3 separate regions of the Homo sapiens genome follow, and all the other regions are linked to region 3. Evidence: fine-mapped expression QTL. A gene starts in region 3. Each other region holds a variant in brackets. All regions are shown on one strand. Distances are from middle to middle.

Region 1 (10,294 bases), 88 kb before region 3:
AGGCTGGAGGGCTGAAGGAGGGTCAGTGAGCACGGTGGATGAAGGGCACATGCCTAGGAGCCACTGATGGCAGGGTGAGGGCAAAAGCTGGTCCCATGGAGGCTGAGGGGTCTCAGGCCATTAGTAGTCAAGCAGAGAAGGACAGGGAGTGGGAGCTCTGGGAAGTCTCTAGCAAGGTTATGACTAACCAAAGCCACTCTGAAGCTAACTGCCCCCCACTTCTCTCAGCCAGTCAATCATTAAGTCCTGCGAGTTGACTGTTTCTCCCTTCTTCCTTGTACTAAGAAGTGTCCACCATGTGCCAAACCATTCTAGGTGCTGGCGATACATCAATGAGTAAGTGCCCTGCTGTCACGGAGCCTGCGTCCAAAGTTGAAAAAAGCAATTGCATAATTATGTTTTGTGACTATATTGTTATGAAGTAAAAGCAATGCTGTAAGCCCCGCAGTTTTTTTAAAAATCAACTTATTTACCTAAGTTTCCTAAACTTACCTCAGAAACCATCCTCCTCCTCCACTTTTTGTGTATATAGAATTTATTTCTAAAGTAGTTTTAAGTTTAGAGCCAAGCTGAGTGGAAAGGAGACTTCCTATATGCCTCCAGTGCCCACATGTGCACAGCCTCCCCCCACTATCAACATCCTGCACCAGTGTGATACTTTTGTTAGAATAGAGGAACCAACATTGACCCAACATTAACAACCGAAGTCCATAGCTTACATTACAGCCTCTTTTTTTTAACAGAACAATGTGTTACCACTGAGACTGGCAGGTATAGGCAGGAGGGAGCCTACAAAGTTTCTCAGAGGGAAGTGGCACACTTGGATTAGTATTTTCTGCACAACCAGTTCGCTCATTTCTCCTTGTCTGACCCAAGAATGTGTCCATATCTTCTGAGTTTCATTTGGTTCAGATGCTACAGACACCTCCCTGGCCCAGGCTACTGAAATGACTTTCAAACTGATCTAGCAGCCACCAGACCATTCGCCTCCCTCACCCCTATTTGGCTCTGAATCCAGACTCCTAGTTAATTGAAGAGCATCACTTGCTCTGTGGCATGAGCTTACTCAAACTTTTCTAGTAACTCCCCAGCAGTGGTTTCCCATGTAATTATCCATAGAACCCATTTGGTGATGGCAGTTGAATACAGTAGTTAAAAACAGACTCTGATATCGGTAGCCCAGAGACTACTACATCCTAGCCCTGGAAATCCCAATTTCCTCACCTTTAAAAAGCGATAGGTGGGGGTGGGGGCGGGGGCTCACGCCTGTAATCCCAGCACTTTGGGAGGCCAAGGCGGGCGGATCAGGAGGTCAAGAGACTGAGACCATCCTGGCCAACATGGTGAAACCCTGTCTCTACTAAAAATACCAAAATTAGCTGTGTCTGGTGGCGCATGCCTGTAGTCCCAGCTACTCGGGAGGCTGAGGCAGGAGAATCGCTTGAATCCGGGAGGCGGAGGTTGCAGTGAGCTGAGATCGCACCTCTGCACTCCAGCCTGGGCAACACAGCAAAACTCCATCTAAAAAAATAAATAAATAAAGCAGTAGTGGGGAGGCCGAGGCAGGAGGATATCACTTGAGGCCAGGAATTCAAGACCAGCCTGGACAACAAAGCAAAACTCACCTCTACCAAAAAAAAAAAAATTAGCTGGAGTGGTGAGTGCCTGTAATCCCAGCTACTCTAAAGGCTGAGGCTGGAGGATCATTTGAGCCCAGGAGGTCGAGACTTCGGTGAGCCATGATCATGCCAGTGCACTCCAGCCTGGACAACAGAGCAAGAACCCAACTCTTTAAAAAAGAAGTGGTAGAGACTATGATGGGCTAGAGATAGAACGTCCAGTCTAAATGGCACAGCAGTTACTCAGCTCCAGTGGCTTGTTGCCAAATCTCCCCATTGTTAAGGAAAAAATATTGTAAACTTGACGTTTATGTGAAATCTAATTTTGTTTCGCTGTAGCAGCTGTAGTAGACTGCAACCTATGGCCACAAATTCCTCCCATCTCTATCTGCCCACCCTTTACAATGGGACATTGCTGCTCCCCCATCAGAGATGAATTCTATTCCCCCTCCTCCCCGTTCTAGCCTGGCCTTGTGACTTGTGTTGGCCAATAAGATGCAGTGGGAGTAACATTTGTAACACTGAGTCGAGACCTCAAAAAGTCTTGCAACTTTGACTTTGAGCCTCTTGGAATGCTCTGTTCTTGTGTAAAGAGGCCCAGGATAGCCGGAAGGAAGGAAATTGAGATACCGGCAGAAAGAAGTCGCATGGGCAGACAGAAGGAAACTCATCTCAGCCATTCCAGCCGCCCCAGCTGAGGCTTCACACTTGGGAGTGAGGCTGTCTAGGACCAACTAGCTAAACTGCCATCTGAATGCAACCACATGAGTGTGCCCAGGTGAGACCAGGAGGAGAATCACCAGGTTAAGCCACAGAACTGTGAGGAAAAGTAAATTATTGTGGTTTTAAGCCACTAAGTTGGGGTGATTTGTTACACAGCCATAGATAACAAAGAGAAATAATTAAGGCATCTTGCCAATCAAATGCCTCAAGTCACCAGTTAGTGATCTCTTAGGTGTGAACTGCTTGAGGACAGGAATCATATCTTGTTGATCTTGGTATCCTGAGTGCCTACCATTGCCTGATAATTAACACATAGTAAATCCTTTGTGAACAAATAAATGGAGCTGTAAGAGGAGCTCCTATCACAGCTGCAGCAGCCTTGAGGATAGGGCTTTATCGTATGTGCCTTTCTAATCCCAACAGGCACTAACATTTTCTCCTGCAGTTTCTATAATCCTGTGTTAGTCATGGTTCTCCAAAGAAACAGAACCAATAGCAGAAACAGAGAGAGAGACAGAGAGAGAGATTATGGGAATTGGCTCATGTGATTATGGAGGTCAGGAAGCCCCACAATCTGCTGACTGCAAGCTGGAGAACAAGGAAAGCCAGTAGTGTAATTCAGTCCAAGTTTGAAAGTCATTTCAGCAGCCTGGGGAAGGGTGGTGTCTGTAGCATCTGAACCAA[T/AT]GAACCTCAAAAGATACGGACACATTCATGGGTCAGACAAGGAGAAGTGAGTGAACTGATTGTGCAGAAAACACTAATCTATGTGTGCCCTTCCCTCAAGAACCTGGAGCTCTGATGTCCGAGGGTAAAAGAAGATGGACGACTGGGCTCAAATAGAGATAATTTGCCCTTCCTCTACTTTTTTGTTCTACTCAGGCCCTCAATGTATTGAGTGATGTGGACCCACATTGATGAGGGAAGATCTTCATTTAGTCTACCAATTCAAATGCTAATCTCTTCCAGAAACACTCTCACAGATGTACCCAGAAATAATATTTTACCAGCTCTATGGGCATCACTTAGCCCAGCCAAATTGACACATAAAATTAACCATCACAAATCCTTATTAAAAAAAAAAGTTTGCTCAATGATGAAGTAGTGCAAATAGAATAACGAAATGGAGTGGCTAATGAACAACGGAGCCAAAAAGAATTGTGACATTTTGCTACATGTTGGGAGAACAAGAGAAGTGTTTGCCTTGACCTAATGGAACCTCAAAGAAACAATAGGGAGTCTCGATGGAGGCAGAAAATGAAGTGTAGCCAGATCCACCCCAAACTGGGAAACCCCAAACCAGGCAGGACTATGAGCAGTAGCCAATGGGTGCTAAGTTAGGAAGTGTCCGAGTTTTGAGGATGGAGAAAATAATACAAAAACAACACAAGATAAAATTGAGGCTGGGCACAGTGGCTCATGCCTGTAATCCCAGTACTTTAGGAGGCCAAGGCGGGCAGATCACCTGAGGTCGGGAGTTCAAGACCAGCCTGGCCAACATGGCAAAAACCCACCTCTACTAAAAATGCCAAAAAAAATTAGCCAGGCATGGTGGCATACACCTGTAATCCCAGCTACTAGGAAGGCTGAGGAAGGAGAATTGCTTGAACCCGGCAGGCAGAGGTTGCAGTCATCCGAGATCGTGCCATCGCACTCCAGCTTGGGTGACAGAGTGAGACTCTGCCTCAAAAAAAAATAAATAAATAAATAAAATAAAATTGAAATTTACCTACTCTGTCTTGGAAAAACCTTTGATGCTAGGGACTGGGGGTTGGCAAGGTACCAAGGCTGATCGAGCCCTTGGGCGTCTCTCTTCCTCTGCCCTTTGCCATCAGGGATGAAGAAGACTTCTCTCCAAGGCTGAGCAGCATCTTTCAAAGAAAAAAAAAAAGAATGCAGTAGGGAAAGGGAGTGCGTGGGGGCTAAAAACCAGCCTCATTGTACGAACACTCAGCCCATATTCCCCTCCCTGACTCTACCTTTTGCAGAGAGGACTGGGGGTGGGACATGCATGTCCTATATTCTACCAGGCCACCCTGAGTGGGAGGGTCCCATTCTGCAGGCTCCTCTGCAGGTTGTTCTTTTGAAACATAAACTCCTGGAGTGTTAGAATTGGAAGGGATCTTAGGCACTGTTTGGATCTATCCAACCCCATTCATTTTACTACTTAAGAAGTAAACAGTGTCCAACTGGGAGCATGAATCCCAGAACCTTTGGTTAAAAGTCTGAAGTTCGATCTGTGGCCTGTCTGGCTGCCTCATTTGAAGACTGCCCTAGATGTTTACTTTTCATCTGATTTCACCCATGTGGTGGGGAATTGGCTGCAGTGTTGTGGAAAAGATCGCCGGACCTGGAGTTAGGAAATAGACTTTCAAATCCCAGCTCTGTCTCTGGCAAGCTGTGGAACTCCAGACATTACTTAAACCCTCTGTGCCTCAGTTTCCTGACCTGTGAGATGGGAATAATAACAGGACAGACTTTTCAGGATTGTTGGGAGATGATTAAATAAGATGAGCTATGTATGTAAAGGGCTTGTCAAGCCTCCTGGAGCAGATAATACTCCTTAACGTGTTTTCTTCTTTTGTTTTTTTTTTTGTTTATTTGTTTTTGTTTTTTTGAGACAGAGTCTCTCTGTCACCCAGGCTGGAGTGCAGTGGCACGATCTCAGCTCACTGCAACCTCGGCCTCCCAAGTTCAAGCGATTCTCCTGCCTCAGCCTCCCGAGTAGCTGGGATTATAGGCTTGCGCCACCATGCCCAGCTAATTTTTGTATTTTTAGTGGAGATGGAGTTTCGCCATGTTGGCCAGGCTGGTTTCAAACTCCTGACCTCAAGTGATCCACCCACCTCGGCCTCCCAAAGTGCTGATATTACAGGTGTGAGCCACAGCGCCCGGCCTCCTTAACGTATTTTCTTCTTCTGCTGCTGCTGCTGTTTTTAATCAATTGCTCTGAGCCTTGGTTTAGGATTGCAGCAAATTTAGAATTAAAACATGTAAAGTGGGTGGGCCACAGTGGCTCACACCTGTAATCACAGCACTTTGAAGCTCAGGTGGGTGAATCACGTGAGCTTAGGTGTTTGAGACCAGCCTAGGCAACATGGCAAAACCCTGTCTCTACAAAAAATACAAAAATTATCCCGGCGTGGTGGTGCACACCTGTAGTCCCAGCTACTTGGAGGCTGAGGTGGGAGGATTGCTAGAGCCTGGGAAGCCAAGGCTGCAGTGAGCAATGATCATGCCACTGCACTCCAGCCTGGGCAACAGAGTAAGACCCTATTTAAGAAAAATTTTTTTTTAATTTAAATTTCAACACTTTTTAAGACTCATGGTTAGGTATTTTGTAGAAGGTCCCCCAATCTGGGATTGTCTGGTGTTTTCTCATGAAAAGACTAAGGTTGTTGATTTTGGCAGGAGTAGCACAAAGGTGATGTGCGCTTCTCGTTGCAGTATATGGGGGCACATGATGTCAACATGATTTATTGCTGGTGATCTTCATCTTGACCATTCGGTTCAGGTGGTGTTTGTGAGGTTTCTCTACTGTAAAGTTACTGTTTTTTTCTTTCCATAGTCCGTAAGAAGGAGGTCCCCAAGTCCAGAGCACACTCAAGGCAAGAGGAAATAAGCTGCACCTCCTGGAGAAAGGGAAATCAAAGAATTTGTGATAGTGTGTGAAAACCACTCAGGTATTCATGTATTTTGGGGCAGATACTTGAAGGCTTTGCAAATGTCCTGTTTTTCCTTAAAGTTTTATCTACTGCTTTTAGCATTAATCAATGGATCTTGCCTGTAGCAATTATTATTGTGATGATCTAATACTGATTTTCTATTTTCCTTATTCCTTATACATTTATAATTAGAATTCTTCTGCATTTAGTTCTTCTCTCTCATTTAGTTATTTATTCAAGACTTTATTTACATCAGTATGGATTCATAAAGGTTTATTTTACTCTTGGAGTTATAATCCAATATTATTATCTATTACCGTTGCTCAAACTGTTCCAGATTTGGCCATTGGGAGCTCTTTCAGGTTGGCTCCTGTGTCCTTTTGATATGCCCCTTCCTTCCCTTTTTTTTTTTTTTTTTTTGCACTTCTTTATTTTCTGGCACTAAAAGTTGTTCCAGGATCATCTTATGTGTTCCCTGTCCCAGCTCAAGAATTAACCATTTTTCCAAGGAACCCTGGCTCCTTTATTGGAGAATATTATTTAGAAACCAAGATCTGGGTGCTAAGTACTCTTGTTGCTAATGGGGTATCACTTCTTTTAGGCCCTCTTTGCAGACAAAGCTAACAAATATAAGTATATATACTAACATACATTTTATATATATATATGTGTGTGTGTTTGTGTGTGTGTGTATACCATATCTATATTTATTTCTCTATCTGTTTGTACATACATACACACCATATAGACATCTATGGATTATAAATCCATATAGAGATCTATAGATAGATAAAGATATCTATATGGATCTATTAAAGATATTCTATACTATTGAGTGTACATATATGTATTAAAATGCACATGAATTCATGCTGATATCTCCAGCTCAAATCCAGCACCACCACCATCCTAACACCCCTCTTCTTTCTGTGACAGTGAGAAACCTGCCTCCCACTAGCGACAGTTTATTTACTTATTTGTTCAACACTGGTATGCATAGAAAGCAGTTGCGGAATTGCTAACCTGTAACAGGCTCTTGACAACCCCAAAGATGGCTTGTACTCAGTGTGAACAAAACTGAGTTCTTCATTTCATAACCAACCCAAACCTCTCTTACTCCTTTTCTCCACTCCCTTCTCTCCCCGTCTATACTCTATCACTGTGATTGACACCAGGCACATGGATGCCATCACTGACATCTCTGTGCCTCCCCTCCCACAGCAAATTACCTCATCTAACCTCATCTTTCACCTCTTCTCCCCACCTCACATGCATGGGCAGGCACACACATGCACGAGCACACACATAACACATATACACACATAGTATGCTCCTGCCACTTTCGTTCTCCAACTGTATCAAGCTTTGGGGCATTGTACATGCTGTTCCATCTGCTTGCAACACTTTTCCTCTTCCCACTCCTCCTGTGATTGGCTAACTTCACGTCTACCTCTTTCAGGAAACCATCCCTGACCACTCTCCAAGCCTATGTCAGGAGACCTCATTCCCTTGATATTGTGAGTTTCTCTCCTGTTTTAGCATTTATCTTTTTTTCTTTTTCTTTTTTTTTAAACAGGGCCTCACTCTGTCACCCAGGCTGGAGTGCAGTTTCACCATCTTGGCTCACTGCAACCTCTGCCTCCCAGGCTCAAGTGATCCTCCCACCTCAGCCTCCCAAGTAGTTGGGACTACAGGCGTGCACTACTACACCTGGCAAATTTTTGTATTTTTTGTAGGGACAGGGTTTTGCCATGTTGCCCAGGCTGGTCTCAGACTCCTGGGCTCAAGCGATCTGCCCATCTTGGCCTCCAAAAGTGATGGGATTACAGGCGTGAGCCACTGCACCTGGCCACATTTATCATTCTGTATTCACAATTCTCACTTACTGTTCCAAATACCTGTGAAACAGCATTTCCCAAATTGTCTCAAGCATTGAATGAAGTATCACTAGAATGTGAGCTCCATGGAGACAAGTGTATGTCTGTTGTGTTCATTGTTGTATCCTCAGTGTCTAGAACAGTGCCTGGCACTATTAGGTACTGGTTAATATTGGTTGAGTGAATTAATTAATGTAGCACTCGGCCTCCAAGATAGCACCATATGACCTTCACCTTCTGGTGTCCCCACACTGAATTAGGGCTGGTCTGTGTGATTAATAGGGTATGGTGGAGGTGACAGTTCCTTCCAAGGGAAGGTTATGAAGTTTCCACCCTGGCTTCTTGGGTAGCTCACGGTGGGGTAAGCCCCAACTGCCATGTCATGAGGACACACAAGCAGCCCTGTGGAGAGCCCAGAGGGTGAAGAACTGAGGCCTCCCACCAGCAGCCAACACCCACTTGCCAGCCCTGTGACTGAGCCACCTAGAATATGGATCCTCCAGTCCCAGCAACACTTCCAATGACTGTAGCCTCATGAAAGATACCAAGCCAAAACTGCTCAGCCAAGCTACTTCCAAGTTTCTGACCCCCAGAAACTCTGAGAAATAGTTTTTCATTGTTGTTCTAAGCCACTACGTTATGGGGTAATGTGTTACATGGGAGTAATTAATGAACACAGTACTGTCCTACAGAAAAGAGCATCATGATTAAGTAAGTTTGGGAAACACTGGATTAAACAGCTAATGGGATTTCTCAGAGGACTCCTCAGAGCTTTTAATATACAATACTCATGAAGAATCCCATCCTCATGTAATGACTTACTCCTTTTTCATCTTATTAACTCTTTCCAGTTTGGAAATGTAGTTGTAAGTAAATCTACAGTCGGCCAGCATCCCAAATAAAATAACACCAAGATTGTCTAAGGGCAGCAGGACAGGAAGAATTTCTTGAGGATTTGGGCCTCAAATTCCTACTTTTTCCTCCTTCAAAAGTCACCTTTCCCTTGGGAATCCCATGAATTATGGCTGCATCTACCAAGCTGGCATCAGAAGACGATGTTCTCCCCTTCACTACTTGGACTCAAACACGGGCACTTTTACTTAACCTTCCATAGCAAAATTGAGATCATAATGACTGACAAAATTTTGCAGGAAACCCAGTGTAGGGAATTCAGTTGGGTCCCCAAAAGAGATATGTTCAAGTCCTGAGCTCCAGTACCTGTAAATGTGACATTATTTGGAAACAGGGTCTTTCTAGATGTATTCAAGTTAAGATGAGGTCATAGTGGATTAGGGTGGGCCCTAAATCCAATGATCAGTGTCTTTTATAAGAGAAAGGAGGTAGATTTGGACACAGACACAGAGGAGCCATAGGGAACAGCCATGTGACAACAGAGGCCAAGATTGGAGTGATGGTTCGACAAGCTGAGGAACATCAAAGCCTGCCAGCAGCCATCAGGAGCTAAGAGACAGGCATGGAACAGATCCTCCCTCAGGGCCTGCAGAAGCAACCGACCCTGCCAACAGCTTGATTTCAGTCTGCTGGCCTCCTGAACTGTGAGACGATAAATTTCTGTTGTTTTAAGCCACCCGGTTTGTGGTGCTTTGGTTCAGCAGCCCTAGGAAAGTAAGACATCCAGGAAGAACTGAAAGGAATTGCTCAAAGGAGCATAAAAGTAGAGCGCCACCCAGCAATGGAGCTGCCTCCTTGCCACTTGGCCCTTGGCTCCCGGCCCTGCCAGGATTCTCCCTCACCTTGGTGGGGGCTGCTTGGGAACAGCCTGGCCTAACTAGTGCCCTCAGGGTTCACGCCCAGGAGAGAGAAGTACAGAGAGATGCTTCCTCTAACTCTACCCAAGGCCTCAGTAACAAATCCCCATTTCCTGACCCCAGACGCTCTTTATTCCAGTAGAATGAACATTGGGACCATCTGTTCCTTTCAGAGAATGTCATGTTCCCACCATAAGGGATGGACTCACAGGTTATCTCAAAACGTAATTGTCTACTGTTACTACAAGAGATACACAAGCAGCGAGAGAGGACAGATTCAGTGCCTTTCTCTGACATCCCAAAGCCGCAGGGACTTCCCCACCATTACTCATTGCTCTGTTCACCTCAGTCTCTAGGCAGGAAGGTCTCTCTCATTAGTGATGAGAGAGAGTCTGCTCTTCCAGGTCAAGGCCGCAGTGAGATGCATGTCCCTGGAGCCTAGCACAGGGCTTGGCACAGAGCAGGGGCCCTGCAGCACTTTGTGGGGAATTGGCTACCTGAACAGTCAAGACACTGAGGCCATTAAAACAGGCTCCCAAAAAAGCAGCCAAACCCCTGTGCACTTTCTGCATCTGGAATTTCCAGGAATTCCTCTCCATGACAATGTAGAAAGTCCAGCAGTGGGTTCCAAGGCATCACAGAAC
Region 2 (8,514 bases), 21 kb before region 3:
TGTGCCCAAGAAGCTACCTGCCTCTTCAACTCCTCATCTCCTCTGCAGTTCTTCTTCCCAACATCATCAGACTGCCCTTTCCAAGCTCCCAATGTGTCCTCCATGATTTCCAACCTCTCCTGGGAGCTCCCTGGGTCTCTGCCTCTCATCAGTGTCCCAGTGAGTGTTCCCACATGCCCTTAATCTCCTTCTGCACACCCTTCCTCAGCCCAAGCCCACAGCCCCCTGAGTGGAGGAACGCTCCATTCTGTGGATTAGAACAGACATAAGTCACACCCAGTGTGTATCAGTGTGTATGATGCCCCCTGTCTCCCAGATAGGACCTGGGCCTGGGAGGGACAGGAAGGGAGCCCTCAGGTGTCCCCCCTCTGCCTATGGGACATGCCCACTCCTGACCCCTGCCTGGCCCCACAGTACTCCATGCACTGCTGCACGCTGGGCTTCCTCTCCTGCTCCCTCTTTCTGCACATGAGCTTCGAGCTGAAGCTGCTGCTGCTCCTGCTGTGGCTGGCGGCATCCTGCTCCCTCTTCCTGCACTCCCATGCCTGGCTGTCGGAATGCCTCATCGTCCGCCTCTATCTGGGCCCCTTGGACTCCAGGTGTGCACAGCTGCTGGACAGAGGTGCCGGGCCCCCTGGGATGGGGTGAGATGGGATACAGCAGAGCTGTCCTGGCCTCACCGACCTGAATCACCCACAGGGCAAAGTGGGAGGGAAGCGGAGGCCTACATGGGGGCAGGGAGAAGGCCAGGAAGGGGGAAAGCAAGGGGTCACCCTGATCCATGGCCCCTTCAGGCCCGGAGTGCTGAAGGAGCCCAAACTGATGGGTGCTATCTCCTTCTTCATCTTCTTCTTCACCCTCCTTGTCCTGGCTCGCCAGGTAAGTCACCCAGCTCAGCCCCACCAGGGCCCACCTATGAGTGGCCCCCATATCTGTGACTTGATCTTTCTAATCTCCAGGGTTGAATGCCCATTGGAAGCTTCTAAGCGAGCCTTCCTGCTTCCTTTCTTCTCCTTCACTCCCTGCCCCTCCTTTCTCCCACACCCCTATCTGGGAAAGCCCATGCTTTAGAAAAAGTCTGCTGCCAATTCTCTATCCCTAGTCTGAATCTAATTTCAAGGATAGTCTCTCTCCAAGTATACTTACACCTTAAGCTCTACTTCTAAACTGGGGGTGGGGTGGGGGTGGTTTCAGGCATCATGGAGTTGGGGCTGAACACTCAGGAGCTGGGCTTCCCCTGCTCTGTGTCTCCCCATGGCCCCGGGTGACCCTCCCCAGAATGAGTACTACTGCCGCCTGGACTTCCTGTGGAAGAAGAAGCTGAGGCAGGAGAGGGAGGAGACAGAGACGATGGAGAACCTGACTCGGCTGCTCTTGGAGAACGTGCTCCCTGCACACGTGGCCCCCCAGTTCATTGGCCAGAACCGGCGCAACGAGGTGACTCCTGACCCCCTGACTCCTGAGCCACGGATGCCATAGGGCCTAATTTCAGATGAAAGCCTTGACCTATGGCCCGTTTTCTCTAGAACCCCCAGAAGGGTCACCCAAGCCCTTGTGCTTGTCAAGCGTCTTTGTTTTCACAACATCTTAGATTCTTTCTTTGGTGAGCACAAAACTGCATTTCAAATTCTTACTTGGAAGGCATGTCTTCTCTAACTCATGACCATTCCATACATTCCAGAAGCCTAGGCGTTGATGGGAGCTGTCTGGAGCAGGGGTCCCCAGCCCCCAGGCCGCAGACTGATACTAGTCCATGACCTGTTGGGAACTGGGCTACACAGCAGGAGGTGAGCGGTGAGCCAGCACTACCGCCTGAGCTCTGCCTCTTGTCAGATCAGTAGCAGCATCAGATTCTCATAGGAACTTGAACCTTATTGTGAACTGCACATGCAAGGGGTCTAGGTTGTACACTCCTTATGAAAATCTATTAGGCTGGTGCAAAATTAATCGCAGTTTTTGCCATTAAAAGTAATATAATTAAAAGTAATTACTTTTTTTTTTTTTTAAGACACAGTTTCACTCTCATCGCTCAGGCTGGAGTGCAACAGAGTTTCACTCTCGTCGCTCAGGCTGGAGTGCAACAGAGTTTCACTCTCGTCGCTCAGGCTGGAGTGCATGTAATGGCACGGTCTCAGCTCACTGAAACCTCCGCCTCCTGGGTTCAAGCAATTCTCCTGCCTCAGCCTCCCAGGTAGCTGGGATTACAGGCGCCTGCCACCATGCCTGGCTAATTTTTTTTATATTTTTTTTTTTTAGTAGAGACAGGGTTTCACCATGTTGGTCAGGCTGATCTCGATCTCCTGATCTCAGGTGATCCACCCACCTTGGCCTCCCAAAATGCTGAGATTACAGGCGCACCGCACCCGGCCTAAAAGTAATTACTTTTAATGGCAAAAAAAAAAAAAAAAA[AG/G]AAATGCAATTAATTTTGCACCAACCTAATAACTAATGCCTGATGATCTGAAGTAGAACAGTTTCATCCCAAAACCATCCCCCACCACAGCCTGGGTGCGTGGAAAACTTGTCTTCCATGAAACCCATCCTTGGGTCCAAAAAGGTTGGGGACTGCTGGTCTAGAGGATACAGTCCACCCCTCTCTCTAGACCTGCACTATCCAATATGGTAGCCATTAGCCATATGAAATTTTAATGTTAATTAATTAAAATAAAATATTCAGTTCCTCAGTTGCACCAGCCACATTTCCAGGGCTCAACAGCCACTCGTAGCTAGTGGCCACCCTATTGGACACTGCACATAGGGAATGTTTCCATTGCAAAAATTTCTATTGGATGCTGCTGCTCTAGATCCTCAAAAATCTTGCTAGCGCCAAACCATCAGAAATTCACCCACATATTTGTACCATCTTATTTGTATCATCTGCTGGCCCTCTGCTGTGGAAATGCTCTTGGCTCATATTGAGGGATGTTAAAAGAAACAGCTCAGGAGCTCTTTCACAGCCTTATGCCCCCACCGCCTGCTCCCTGCTCTCAAGATCAGTAGTTCTTTTCTGGTTTCTTCTCTTACAGACACAAGGAATCTTGTAATCGATCCTTTTCTCTCTTCACTTTGGCTGCTAGAAAGCTGAGAGCCAAAATCTAAGACTAAATAGGATTTCATGGCACTCATTTTGTGAACCACCCTCAGATCTGATTCCATCTTTATTATCTTACCCTTATTTTCCCTTTGCCTCATAGTCCCTATTGTTGCTTACTTCATCTTTCATTTTGTACCTATCTTAACTGACTTAAACACTTAAACACATTTTACCCTTGGTTTTGTAGCCGGCTTAATTGACTTAAACACCTTTCAGCAATAAGATAGGATATAGAAATAATTCACATTGACAGGATCCCAGTTCTAGGAGTGACTCCCTTCGTGTTGCTGTGAGGTGATCCTAACGCCAAACCTCTGTCTCTTCTAGAATTACAATGAGATCTAAGCTTTGACTCCTAAGTCACTTCCCTGGGGTAGCCTGGCCCTACTCCTCTCCCTCCTTCCCAATTCTTCTTAAACAGGGAGACCAGGAGTGTGGACATGGGGAGGAGGGCCCCACGCAGACCTCTAGAAGGGAGAGGAACATGACACACACCCCTCACTCCAGTCTCCTGTTCCCCCAGGATCTCTACCACCAGTCCTATGAATGCGTTTGTGTCCTCTTCGCCTCAGTCCCAGACTTCAAGGAGTTCTACTCTGAATCCAACATCAATCATGAGGGCCTAGAGTGTCTGAGGCTGCTCAATGAGATAATTGCTGATTTTGATGAGGTGAAAATTCCAAGAGTCTCCCAGACCCTATGTCCTAGATTCTAGAATTTTCCACCAGTACCTCCTTCCACTTTGCTTTTCTGGCCATGAAGTCAATCCTCCCCTCCACAGTACTCCCTCACCTCCTCTGATCCCCCAGATCTACCCACTCCAGCAACACTGCCCACCACCAACCCTCTCCTTCCTGACACTATCTCCACTCCCACAGCCTGATCCTTTAACTCCAAAGGCTTGGGGCTGGGCTTCTGGGAGAGGTGATGGAGAGAGTAAGAGAGACTGGGGACAGGACTCTTCTCTATATACAGCTGCTCTCCAAGCCCAAGTTCAGTGGGGTGGAGAAGATCAAGACCATCGGCAGCACCTACATGGCAGCCACAGGCTTAAATGCCACCTCTGGACAGGATGCACAACAGGTACGGCAACCCTTCCTTACCTACCATCCTCCTCTGGGCTCTCATTGATGGGCTTATTAGTGGGACTTATTCCTGTGCCCTCACTGGCCCACCCTGGTGGGCGGGCCCATTGCCAGGATGCTGAACGGAGCTGCAGCCACCTTGGCACTATGGTGGAATTTGCCGTGGCCCTGGGGTCTAAGCTGGACGTCATCAACAAGCATTCATTCAACAACTTCCGCCTGCGAGTGGGTGAGAGACTTCCCCTGCTGCAGCAGTCTGGTACCTCCTCACCTTCCTGAGCTTGCCCCACTCCAAGTCCTTTGTTAGCTGCTCCCAGTTCATCCTGAAGCCCCTTTCCTGACTCACTCCCTGGGATGGGGTGTGAAGGTGCTGGGCAAGGAGGTACGAGGCTCTCCCACTCTTTTTCTTAAGCTACATTCCTCCAGCCCTTAGAGACCCCTCCTCTCCTCTAGGGCCCCCCAGGCTCTTCTCCCTTCCTTCCAGTTCCTTGTGGCTTCCTCTTCCCCTCTTCCTTCTCCAAGTCTGTCATTACCACATCCCTCATTAGGGTTGAACCATGGACCCGTAGTAGCTGGAGTTATTGGGGCCCAGAAGCCGCAATATGACATTTGGGGCAACACAGTGAACGTGGCCAGCCGCATGGAGAGTACAGGAGTCCTTGGCAAAATCCAAGTGAGGGAACCACATTGGAGGCATAGGGGGAGGGGGACTAAGAATAGGGCCACCTCCATATTCCCTCGCCCCCCTCCAATTGTAGGTGACTGAGGAGACAGCATGGGCCCTACAGTCCCTGGGCTACACCTGCTACAGCCGGGGTGTCATCAAGGTGAAAGGCAAAGGGCAGCTCTGCACCTACTTCCTGAACACAGACTTGACACGAACTGGACCTCCTTCAGCTACCCTAGGCTGAGATTGCACTCGCCTTCTAAGAACCTCAATAAAGAGACTCTGGGGTGTCTGGAGCCCATTGATGTCTGAAGCTGCTGATATAGCTGGGGATCACCTTCTCATTGCCCTTCAGTGGGAATTCTTCTTCTTCCCAGGCCAATTTTAGTGCGAGTGTGTGTGTGAATGTGTGTGCACATGCCTGCACACATGCATGCATGTGAGACTAAGCATTTTGAAAGGGAGTGATTTTTTTCACAAGCTCAGGAAGAGAACTCCCTCAGCCTCTCTGCCAACTTGATTATAGTATTTTGTACACCTTGGAAGCATAAAGAATTTAGCCACATGACTCAAAACAAAAATTTGCCCTTTCCTGCCCCCTACTCAAAAATACCGGAAGAATCTCCAGGGAAATGTCATTTGAACTTTATTAATTCGACAAACACTAAATAAGTACCTATTATGTGCTCACCATACAGAATGGGCGAGAGGACTGGGAAATACTCCGTTAGGTCCCTCCCAGTTTCAGCTGCTGTTCTCAAATTGGTGCACCATACCTTCCAGTAAGGATCTGTAGACAGCTTGGGGATCTCCTCTTCTTAGGTCCATCCAACATCCCTTTGCTTCCTTCTGCATCCTTCTGCACAGATGCTGGTATATGGGTCTTGAGATATTGATGACTCATTCTCACTGGCTCATACTTTGGGGTCCATGGGAGTATGTCAAACCTTGACATACTAGATTTGTTGCGGATGTTGCATGTGGATATTTGGTTTCCCTCTCTTACTTGCTCTTTTGTTTTTTTATGAGAAAGATCCAAAAAGTACACTGCTGCCACTGTTGTTGCCATCTTCCTAAAACCTTGTCAGAACAGAGTTGGACCAAGGTTCTCTAAAACAACAGTCATCTCTAGGAAATAATGACTCATCCCTCTCACTTTTGGGAATCTTTGTTTCCTGGGGCCCTCAGCCCCACCCTGTGCCAGGGTGTGTTGTGGAGGTTAGCAGATGCTGATATGCAAAATTCTAAGGGATAAGATCTAATGACTTAGTCCTCAAGTCTGGCCTCTTTGTGAAATGGAGGGAAGGAAGGCATCCCCTAGAACATCTCCTATGGAGAGGACAAAGATTATTGGCAGGAAGTTGGAGTCATTCTAACAAGGAGACTTATCACAGGCTTCAAGGAAGATATTTCACAGCAGTGCTGTTTTCTCAGAAGGTCCCGGGTCACAGAACCTGGAGTGATAAGCCCACATGGGTGGTCTTCCTAGACAAGCTGCTTTAGGAGTCTGTAGACTGCGTTTTGCTAAGTATTATCTGCAGACTATGTACTCGGAATCATCTGGGATGGGGGAAGTCTATGTTTCTTTGTGTCCCTTCCAAAATTGTAAATCATGGGGAACTAAAGGACGTGACTCTCAACTACCGAGAGGGGCCCCACCAGGGCGCCCACGAGCACCCCGATACCCACAGCACATGTACCCCACTCACAAGGTTGACCAAATTTCAGACTTCAGTTTTAATGGTTAAAGCTGCCTGTGGGAGCCAGGCTGGAGCACGCTCTCACTCGGCCCTCACTTTGCTCCACCTCTCCCTCTTCTTCCACTCCACTCCCGCCTCCCACGCTCCCACGCCCTCCACGCCCTCCACGCCCCTGCTCCTCCTCCAGGTACTGAACTGGCTCAGAGCTAGCATTCTGCCAGGAGGAAAGTGCGCCTCCTTCCACCAGGCCTAGTTCAGTTCGTTTAACTTGAGAGGGCTGGAGGCAGTGAGGCTCTCGGAAGGGCCGGGCTCCAGAGCGGCGGGGCCGCTCCTAGCGGTCTGGCCCAGGCTGCCCCCGCGGCGCGTGCTGGACGCCTCGGAGCCCGTGCCCTCCAGCAGCTTGGCGACGAAGCCCACGCCCGCCGAGCGCAGCAGGCCGCCGCCGGCGCACGCGTACAGCACGGGGTTCACGCTGCTGCTCAGGAAGGCGAGTGCGATGAGCACGTTGCGGGCCAGGCTCAGCCGCTTCCCCACGAGCCCTAACCCGGCGGCCTGGCCGGCCAGCGCGCGGCCCGCCTCAGCCAGGTTCACCACGTGGTAGGGCAGCCAGAAGGCGGCGAAGGTCAGGATGATGAGCACCACCAGGCGGCCGGTGCGGCGGCTGCGGCGGAAGCGCCGGGCCTGTAGCCGACGCCCTATGTCCGAGTAGCTGGCCACCACAGCCAGGAAGGGCAGCAGGAAGCCCGTGACAGCCTCGAAGATTAGATGGAAGGCCCGGTGCCCTTCGCTGGGGTACCGCGGGAAGCACAGGCTCATGTTCGTTTTCCAGGGCACTACTGTGCGGTACGCGAGGACGGGTGTGGCCAGCAGAAAGGACAACACCCAGATGCCTGCCAGCACCCGCCGGGCCATCGCCTTGGTGCGTAGCTTCTGGGACACAAAGGGGCGGGCCACCGCCAGTGAGCGGTCTAGACTCATGGCCGTGATAAGCAGGACGCTGGCGTACATGCTGACTCCGCAGACATAGTGACACAGGCGGCAACCAGCCAGTCCAAAACTCCAGGTGCCTTGGGCCAGGAAGTGAAGGAAAAAGGGAGCAGTGAGCAATACGGCCAGGTCGGCCAGGGCCAGGTTCAGCACCATCAGGGCAGTGACAGAGCGCTTCTGCATCCTTTTCAGGATACTCCACACCACAAAGCTGTTGCCGGGAAGCCCCACAGCCAGCGCCACTGACAGCAGGATGATAGCCAGCAGAGAGATGAACTCTACACCTAGTGAGGGGGGTGCTGCAGAAGATGTAGTGTTCATGGCCGTCGGGAGGACCTGGAGAGTGAGGGCGGACACACGCATGAGAGTAGAGGACCAAGGGTTTCCTGACGCCATGGACACACCTAGGCTGAGAACTCTAGTCTATCTCCAGGGTCAGCAGCATCAGAGGTCCCCCTGAAATATACTGCCCCCATCGCTGCAGACTGACAACTTAAAGGGATCTGGTTGAGTACAAAGACTAGTTTCCTAACTGGGTCATGCGGCCCCTTCCTGTCCACAGACCCAATTGCAAAATATACAGTGACCACAGCAGCAGCAGCATTTCCAGACCTTTTCAGTCTCCTCCCCTTAGGAGACCCTAAAGCCCAGAACCAAACAGAGTTCCTACCAATGCTGCACCCCTTGAAAGGCCAGTCTTTTTGCCCCCTGCCAGGCCCTCAGCCCCTCAATCCCATTAACTTTCCCAATCACCTGCCTACTGTCCCCAGAGATGCCCAGGGTCAACCAGGAATAACAGGGAGGGGAGGAGTTTAGTGGACAAGTGACAAGGACAAAGCCTCCCAACTTTTTACGCTGGTCAGGCTTTCTTTGGAGATTCCTTTGCACCTTCTTTCATGGCTGCACACTGTCCCACCACCACCACAACCACGGCCGCTCCCAGGAAACTTACTTACAAGCTTTGGCAGGAACTGGTTGGAAGCT
Region 3 (8,349 bases):
CTTCCACTCTAACACCCAATGCATGAGACCACAGGGAAGCCCACCTTAGTCCTAAGCAGCAAAGGAAAAGAGAAGCTATGGCAACAGCTCTAGCACTCATGTGGGCTTATAGCCAAGTACCAGAGTCTGGGTGGGCCATGGAACCTCAAGCTGTAAACCTGAATAAAGCCAGTTTCTTGCTGGTCCTCATACCTGAGAGAAGTCAAAACAAATCCTCACTAGAAGGTGGGCACCTTTATCCTAAGCTCTGGAAAACCTCAAAGAATAGCTTTTCAAGGGCAATGGCCAGCACAATGTCAAAGGTATATAGAGGCAGACAGACCATAAAATAAGGTCCAGTGATCAAGAATTAGCAGAAACAGATCCAGCTCAGGTTTCCAACTCACCAGCTCAGGGGTAGTGACTGCATCCAGTAAGCGCTGCAAAGGGAAGTTGGCAATGGGATGTGCAGCCAGGGTCTGCAGCTGCCCCTGCAAGTGCTCCTCAAAGAGGCTCTGGAGTCTTGGGGGCTCCAACACCAGCAGGACCTGCTCCAGGAGTCTGGAACTCGTCTGATCTCGGAGAAATAGCAGTAGGGGACTAGGGACAAGAAGGGCATCAGGCAGTCTTAACTCCATTTCATGCAAAATACAGTTGCACTACATCACCTCATTCATTTCACACAGCCCCGCCAACTTGGGTCGATCCTGAGGCCCTGACCATACCTGCCATCTACTGAGGAACCGCGAGTACTCAGGTAGCCAATCACAGCATTGCAGAGATGAGCGCAAAACTGGGGAAGTTTGCGGTGTAAAACCTGTAAAGCCACTTGAAGACAGAAGCTGGAGATCTTATCAGTGATAAACACTGTGGAGAGAGGGCAGAAATAAAGCGGCTTTCCCAAAATCCAGACAACCTGCGTAACCTCAAACTTTAGGCAACAAGATACAGGGCACTATGGACACAAAGGGACTATACAAAGTGCTCTGAACGTCAAACCAGACCAGGTTTGAAAAGAAGAGGAATAACCTGAGGTAAGGGCCTTGCTTGGTGGTAAGATGACCTCCAGACAAGTAGATACGAGACCATCCTCCTACTTCCCTCCTTACCTGCAATGTCCTTCAGAAAGGAGGAGCTCAGGTCCTGAAGGCGATTCAAAAAGGTTTCAGGGACTTCAAAATCAGCTGGCTTACATTCCTGAGCTGGGGTCTTCTGTGCTTCTGAAGGAAGATTAAGAACATGTGCAGTGGGGAGATCACAAACTGCCATCCAGGAGAGAAAAATTTCACAGATGAACAAGGATTCCGCTTGGAGATGCAGAACAGATGTAGTACAACTAAATGTCTCTTCTGGATGACTGAACTGAGACTACATTTCTGTCTTAATTTTTCTAAGAAACTTCAACCAGCTTCCCCATGGTCCACAGAAGACAGTTCAACCTCCTCAGCCAGGTATTCAAGCCATTCCAAAATAAAGCCTCATTTAAACTCGCTAACTTTATTTCCTAGTTTTTCAAAATGTGGATCACAGCTCAAGACTGTACCATGAAATCAAGTTAGTGGTCTCAACTAGCATTTTTTTTAAATGAAATAGAGCAGAATAGTTTTGAAAAGGAAAAAAAAATAACAGAGTGGGCTGCATGTAGTAAGGGTATAGTTTCCTGAACTTTTGCTTGAGTCCAGTGTGTATGTTACTTTTGCTTAAGTCCATTTGTATATTAAGTCATGCTTAAAAAAAATTCTCCTCCTGCGTCCATTCTAATAGCCTTCCCCAAACACAACTGTACATCCCTACCTCTGGGCCTCCGCACACACTAATCTTTGGCTTGCTAAGCCCTGTTCAGATTAGGACAGGTCAAGCTAATTCTTCCCGGTCAAGCTCCCCCATGAAGACTTACTCTTCTGTTTACTGTCTCATTCTGAACTTTCTAAATTCTTCTTCCCCCTAGGTCCACTTTCCTCTTGTAATACTTACCAGATGATTGGGAACCACGGGGCCTGGCTCTCTCAGACTCCAGAATAGTCCCTCCTAACACCTGAAGCAGAGTTCTGACCACGAAGCTGCCATGTGTGTCTCCACAGTAGACAAGAAAATCATCACACACCTCAGCGGCTAGTCCCAGGACCAGCTCCTCCAGGGTCTCCGTGGGACCATCCTTTCCATCCTCCTCCTCCTCCTCCTCCTCCTCTGCAGCACTCCCCAGCAATCGAGGGAGCTGTAGCAAAGCACTTTGTAATACATGGACCCCGCATCGGTGACAGGCCACAGTGCGCAAGTTAGAGCGCAGAGCAGCCCACACGCGACAAAGCGGTTTCAAGGGACTGAATCCCAACAGTTCCTGCAGCATCTCACTGCCAGTCCTGTTCGTGGACAAAGCTAGGGCCTGAGTCTCTACTTCCTTCATTATATTGTGCACCATCAGATCTGAAAAGGGAAGAAAGACACACTTTGAAGAGACTTAGTAGAGAATACAGTTATGTACCCTCGCTTAACCAAGGGTCGTGGGTCGGAGGCCGAGGAAGAGGACATGGGAAATGAAACTAAGTCCCCACGCCCTGCCGACCCTAGAAAGTTTCCTTGCCTGCCCTGGATTTGATGCTCTTGGTCTAAACCCCGAAGTTGCTGCCTACCTCGTTCTTCCCCAGTCTCGGGAGCCTCTTTCAATGCTGACAGCGCCCGGCGGAAATATCCCAGAGCTTCCGGGCTCAGGTGCGGGTGCGAATCTGGAGCCGGCTCCGAGCGCCCATCCGGAGGCGGCCAGGGTTGCCGCTTACGGCCTGGTAAGGGGCGCCCCGACCCCTTGGCCCCGCGCCCCCGTTTGCCACCAGCTGGGAACCGGCGCCCCACCTTGTGTGGAGAGCGCGGACCCTGCCCCATGTGTGCTTCGCGACCTGTCCGGCTGCAAAAGCTTCCTTAACTGCGGACGGACCTTCGACGTCGCCAAGCGTGCGCCTTATCCAGACAAAGTTTAGAAACGCGGGCGCGCTCCTGACGCAGCTACTACGTCATAGTTCCGCGCCGCCCCAGCCGGGCGGGGTGGGTGTGTCACCCAGATCGCTCCGCCCCCATCCGCAGGTTCTAACTTTGGCCTGGGACTCTGCCCCTCTACCTCAGCACAGAATCGCCCCGGGTCCTACTACAGAATCAATCCTTGAACACTGCCTCCACGTCGCCGGCTCAATCTGGGCGAGAACCCAGACTTCCACCGCAGCCCCGCAATCTGCAGACCTCAGCGGCAGCGCAGGTGGCAGGTAAGCGGCGCACGCTCGTCCCACTTAGGGCTTAGGATCTCCAGGCTTCGCGCTCATCCCCGGCCCGGAAGCTGCGCCTCTGGCTCAGCCGGACTGGGTCAGGCCAGGGACCGGAGCTTCAGATAGCCCAGGACTCTGCGTGGACGCGCCCCGAGGGGCTGCCGCGCCAGATTCCCATATCCAGGCAGCCACACTCAGAGGGTTGTAGTAGTTGTCCACCTCTGGACAGTCCCACTCAGCCCCTTCTTCACTCTCTGGGCCTCCCAAAAGACAGTCAGCCTTGTCCTCAGGCCCGCACCCAGTTGTCAGCCTCTGACTCCTCTCCCCTCAAAGGATTCTTACCTTGGCTCCTCCTCTTAGCCCTAGTGAGGTTCTCCCCTACCCCCCAACCTCGCCCCAACACACACACAGTCTCCAGGCTTCCCTCAGAGTAAGTCTTTGCTTCCACAGACCTGCCTCCTTTGCCTGTGAGTCATGGCAGCTCCCATGAATGGCCAAGTGTGTGTGGTGACTGGTGCCTCCAGGGGTATTGGCCGTGGCATTGCCTTGCAGCTCTGCAAAGCAGGCGCCACAGTTTACATCACTGGCCGCCATCTGGACACCCTTCGCGTTGTTGCTCAGGAGGTGAGTGCTTCCTCTGGGACCACAGTTGCAGAAACCACCCGAGAGAGCCCTTCCACTTAACAGCTCCTTTCCTAATCCCTTACCTGAAACTATAATACTACTCAACAAGATGTGAATATTTATTCAAAGTGGAAATTAAAAACCCCGTAAATAACTTCAGGTAAGGTAGAATTTTGCCGCCAAGTGAGTTTTATGAAAAAACTTTGTGTTTGAGCCAGGCATGGTGGCACGTTCCTGCAGTCCCAGCAGCTACTCCGGAGGCTGAGGCAGGAGGATCGCTTGAGCCTAGGAGTTGAGCCATGATCACACCACTGCACTCCAGTCTAGACGACACAGCGAGACACTGTATTAAAAAAAAGAAAAGAAAGAAAAGTAAAAAACTTTTTGTTTGAGAGCAGAGATTTTGGAATTGCAACTAAAGGGTTGTGGACCTGTGCTTTCCTCTATTTCAGGCAAGACTTTATTGAACTGCACATTTTTTACTTATTTACTAGACTTCAGTTAAATAAATATTTGAGTATCCATGATTTGCTAGGCATTGGTAAACCACTGAAGTTACCAAGACTAATAAAATCTAATTTCTGCTCTTCAAAGATTCAGTCCATGGTGGAGTACAGTGGCTCATGCCTGTAGTCCCAGCACTTTGGGTGGCCAAGGCAGCAAGATCACTTGAGGCCAGCAGTTGGAGACCAGTCTGGGCAACATAGCTAGACCCAGTCTCTACAAAAAATATTTTTTAAATAATTAGCTAGGCACAGTGGCCTGCACCTGTAGTACCATCTACTTGGGAGGCTGAGGCAGGAGGATCGTTTGAGCCCAGGAGTTCGAGGTTGCAGTGAGCTATGATTGCACCACTGCACTCCAGCCTGGTGACAGTGAGACCCTGTCTCTAAAAAAAAAAATTTTAATTAAAAATGAAGATAGATTCCAACAGGAAGTCAGGTACAGAAAGCAGTCACTTCAATGTAATGTGAATATGGTAAATTATAAGAGGGAGATATGCACAGAATACTCTAGGGGTGTTGGGGAGCATCCAGATGACATAGGAGAGTGGCTAGGGAAAGTGGTTTGGGAAAGCGTCCTGGAGGAGGTAGGTGGTTCTTGAACTGAGTTTTGAAAGGTAAGAATTAGGTAAAGGAAGTTAGGAAAAGCATTCCAGCAGAGGGAGCTCCATAAGCATAGGGACGCTGTGTGAAAGAGTAGATGTGTGAGATAATGCAAGGGAAGAGTAGTGAGTGAGAGGCTGGAGAGGAAAGAGTGGGTCTTGGAAGACCCTAATAGAGAACTCAGGCTTCATCCTCTAAGAGATGGAGATCCAGTTAGGAGATTTTGAACAGGGTTTGTGTTTTAGATAGGTCGTACTGGCTGGATTATGAAGAATTAATTTAAGGCAGACAGACTGGAGGTCAGGTGAGTCGTTGGGAGGCATTGCAGTAGTTCAGGCAAGGAGGGTAATAGGCGGGGACCCAGAGCATAAATTTGGAGAATAGGAGGATTGTTCTTAGATAAAGGACTCTTCTTCCTCTGAAGTTGGAGGTTTGTGGGCATTTGTAGAGAGTGAGACAGAACAGGAAGTAGAAATCATTCATGGCTGATAGCTTTGGTTTTTTCAATTACCAACCAGGAGCATTGGTGGAGTGAGGGTAAGACAACTGGGACTGAGTAGAGGTTTTAGGTGAGTAGTGTAGGGTGGGAGCTAAGGGCATGAGAGATGGAAATGACCACAACAAGGAAAAGGATGCTTACTCATTTCTCAAGAGCAGACTCCATGCCTCACTTGTTCTTACCCTCTACTTGCAAAGTACAATGCTGTGCACATGGTGGGCCTCAGTAAATGTTTGTAGATTATTAAAACTTACATTGCAATTCACCTTGCTCTGTGGTGGGGAGGCCTATCATTCCTGAAACTACTCAAACAGACACCAGAGGGCAGCGTTGCCTGCCATGTTGCCTCTGCAGCAGGCTCTCCTAGGATTGATTGTCTTCTCAGTTCTCAAGCCCACTTTGGTTGGGGAGTTTTGTCATGACTCACACCCATGTGTGAATGTGAGCTCATATCCCCTGTCCTACTCCAGGCACAATCCCTCGGGGGCCAATGTGTGCCTGTGGTGTGCGATTCAAGCCAGGAGAGTGAAGTGCGAAGCCTGTTTGAGCAAGTGGATCGGGAACAGCAAGGGCGTCTAGATGTGCTGGTCAACAATGCTTATGCAGGGGTCCAGGTACCCTTTGAACTTTGTTCCCAACTCCACATTTCTGACCTCCCCCTCAGACCCCTGCATCTTCATCCCCACTCATTGTCCCTTCCATTACCCAGCCCCTCACACCTCCCTACCTTCAGATCATTCATCACCCTCCCTGTGCCTTCCAGACGATCCTGAACACCAGGAATAAGGCATTCTGGGAAACCCCTGCCTCCATGTGGGATGATATCAACAACGTCGGACTCAGGTGGGTGCTCCACTGCCAGGACCCATGTTCCCTCACTCACTTAGCCAACTCGACGGCCAGGCCTTTCCTTACATGCCCTCTCCTTTTCCCTCCGGCCTCCCCCATCTCTTTCTTCTCCCTTCCATTCCATTTGTCCCACTTACCTCTGGAGAAGTTCCATCCAGGTGAGTCTGTACCTGAGAATGTCAACTCTGTCAGTAATTTTCATTGGAACAAGCCCTTGGCCTCTCTCCTGTCTCACTCTCTGCCCATCCAAATGCAAGACCCAGAAGGGAGGAAGCCTCCTCCTCTCAGTAATGCGCACAGCCTGTAGTCTATACTTTCAAAATGGTTAGAGGGAGAAATTGTTTTATTTTAGACTGGGAGAAGCTTAAGAAGAAGGAGCGAACACCAATGCTGTTTAGTCTCCACATCCTCACTCCACACCCACAGGCAAGGGCACTGCCGGGTCAGAGTTGGGAGAGCAGGTACATCACTGGGTCACACAGGGTCATTTAGCCCAGGAGTGAGATGAAACACAGCATTTAGAATTCGCCTAGCATAATGCACACCAGTTATGCCTCTGTTACTGTTGGAATGATGTTACACTCTCATATAATCAAGTCATGCCTGATGGATGTGATCAGTCACCTGTGGGAGTAACCACGAGATTATCGGCAAATCTGTGACTAAAGCATGTAAGAACACCCACCGCTCCAATTTTGGTACTCTGGTAACAATCCCAAGGAAGCAGGATTAGAATGCAATTGTGATTTCCAAAGTGGAAGGAAGATCATTAGGACAGAGGAGGATGGTGAGGCCAAAGGCAAGAAAGGGACACGTTAAGAGCTGGAAATTGGCCAGTGTTCATGACCATAGCCTCCAAAGAGAGGTGCCTTCCACACCCTCATCTCTTGCTGGCCAGGGTTTTGACCCTGAAGCAGAGATTCAAGGCAGAGGCCCAGACCCTCGACCTTGGGCCCTGATGAATTATCCAAGGTAAAGGCCCCTTGATGAGCCCCTGACAGCCCCCCAGCACCTCCTGCCCACCCATTCCCCATGCGCATTTACTGCCTTTCCTCTGTATTACCTTGGGCTGCACTTTCCTTTAAAACTATAACTCTACTTGTTTTCATTTGGAAGGTCCTAATTCTTTCCCTATGCAAAAGAAATTTATTCTGGTTACCAAGTTATGTGTGTGTTACTTTTTTTAAATATGGAAAAAATCTGAAGACCAGTATAATCTTATTCCCCTCAGTGCCATCCCTTGCTCTCTTGCCTGATATATAGCTACTATTAATAGCCTGGCATATATTCTTTCAGATTTTTCATGTAAATATCTCTCATTCTTTTTAATACTTGTACGTATTCTATTGGGAGGATGTATGATCATTTATTTCTCTAATCCCTTATTTGTTGCAGCAGTGGAATTCTTAGATCAAAGAATATGTACTTCCCTTAGGTTATAGAGACTGTGGGAAAAATAGAAAAAAAGAAAAGAAAACAAAGAATATGTACTTTTTAAAGATTTAATAAATATTATCAAGCTCTCCTACAAAAAGACCCTACCAATTTTTTATATCAAGACAATGAAGGGGAATATGTGTTTCCCCATGTCCTCTACCACACCAGGCAGCGTCAGCTCATGCACTCAGGCAAGCTTTGTTACTATAATAAGCCGAAAATATATAAAGGGGTTTTAATTCATACTTCTTCCACTATTTGTCAGGTTGAACTTTTTTTCCCCTTTGTTTATTGGCTCTTTGTTCTTTTGTAAATCATCTTTGACTTTCGCATTAATTTATAAGAGATCACTGTGAAACAAATGACTTTGGCATTTATTTTACAAATATTTTTCCCAATTTATCACTCATTTTTCACACGCATACTCCCCCCACTCGTCTGTTGTTGTTGTTGTTGTTGTTGTTGTTGTTGTTGTTTTGAGGTGGAATCTCGCTCTGTCACCCAGGCTAGAGTGCAGTGTGCAATCTCAGCTCACTGCAACCTCTGCCTCCTGGGTTCAAGCGATTCTCATACCTCAACCTCCCGAGTAGCTGGGATTACAGGC

Which allele goes with the higher level. Alleles are on the strand shown, and positions count from the first base shown. SD is a standard deviation of normalised expression in the study named. Not every link is listed here.
As copies of AT replace T in region 1, the expression in monocytes after LPS of the gene that starts at base 3,031 in region 3 goes down (moderate effect, 0.75 SD a copy in Fairfax 2014).

The links. PIP is the estimated chance that this variant, and not a neighbour inherited with it, causes the effect. A credible set is the group of variants that fine-mapping cannot tell apart.
Region 1: its variant is the best candidate, but not a certain one, in a credible set for the expression of DHRS1 in monocytes after LPS (Fairfax 2014, PIP 0.87).
Region 2: its variant is the best candidate, but not a certain one, in a credible set for the expression of DHRS1 in lymphoblastoid cells (TwinsUK, PIP 0.62).

Annotation. Positions count from the first base shown.
Region 1 is chr14:24,381,248-24,391,541 of GRCh38, reverse strand. It overlaps LOC124903292 (a long non-coding RNA gene), which reads left to right and starts at 2,133. Exons shown (of 3, transcript XR_007064086.1): 1 at 2,133-2,397; 2 at 5,908-6,022; 3 at 7,581-7,621. The variant T/AT (reference allele first, on the strand shown) is at 3,027.
Region 2 is chr14:24,314,989-24,323,502 of GRCh38, reverse strand. It overlaps ADCY4 (adenylate cyclase 4), which reads left to right. Exons shown (of 25, transcript NM_001198568.2): 17 at 49-159; 18 at 415-599; 19 at 795-879; 20 at 1,279-1,437; 21 at 3,615-3,761; 22 at 4,067-4,174; 23 at 4,291-4,405; 24 at 4,725-4,849; 25 at 4,935-5,144. The coding sequence ends at 5,087. It overlaps LTB4R (leukotriene B4 receptor), which reads right to left. Exons shown (of 2, transcript NM_001143919.3): 2 at 5,467-7,866. The coding sequence starts at 7,851. The coding sequence ends at 6,793. Among named protein-coding and RNA genes, the nearest start is that of LTB4R, 7.7 kb to the right of the region's middle. RefSeq lists enhancers at 932-1,891, 6,923-7,423. The variant AG/G (reference allele first, on the strand shown) is at 2,410.
Region 3 is chr14:24,294,462-24,302,810 of GRCh38, reverse strand. It overlaps DHRS1 (dehydrogenase/reductase 1), which reads left to right and starts at 3,031. Exons shown (of 9, transcript NM_001136050.3): 1 at 3,031-3,230; 2 at 3,681-3,854; 3 at 5,930-6,073; 4 at 6,223-6,302. The coding sequence starts at 3,705. NOP9 (NOP9 nucleolar protein) reads right to left here and starts at 2,961. Exons shown (of 10, transcript NM_174913.3): 1 at 2,610-2,961; 2 at 1,954-2,403; 3 at 1,089-1,199; 4 at 705-846; 5 at 387-579. The coding sequence starts at 2,856. RefSeq lists an enhancer at 3,687-4,477.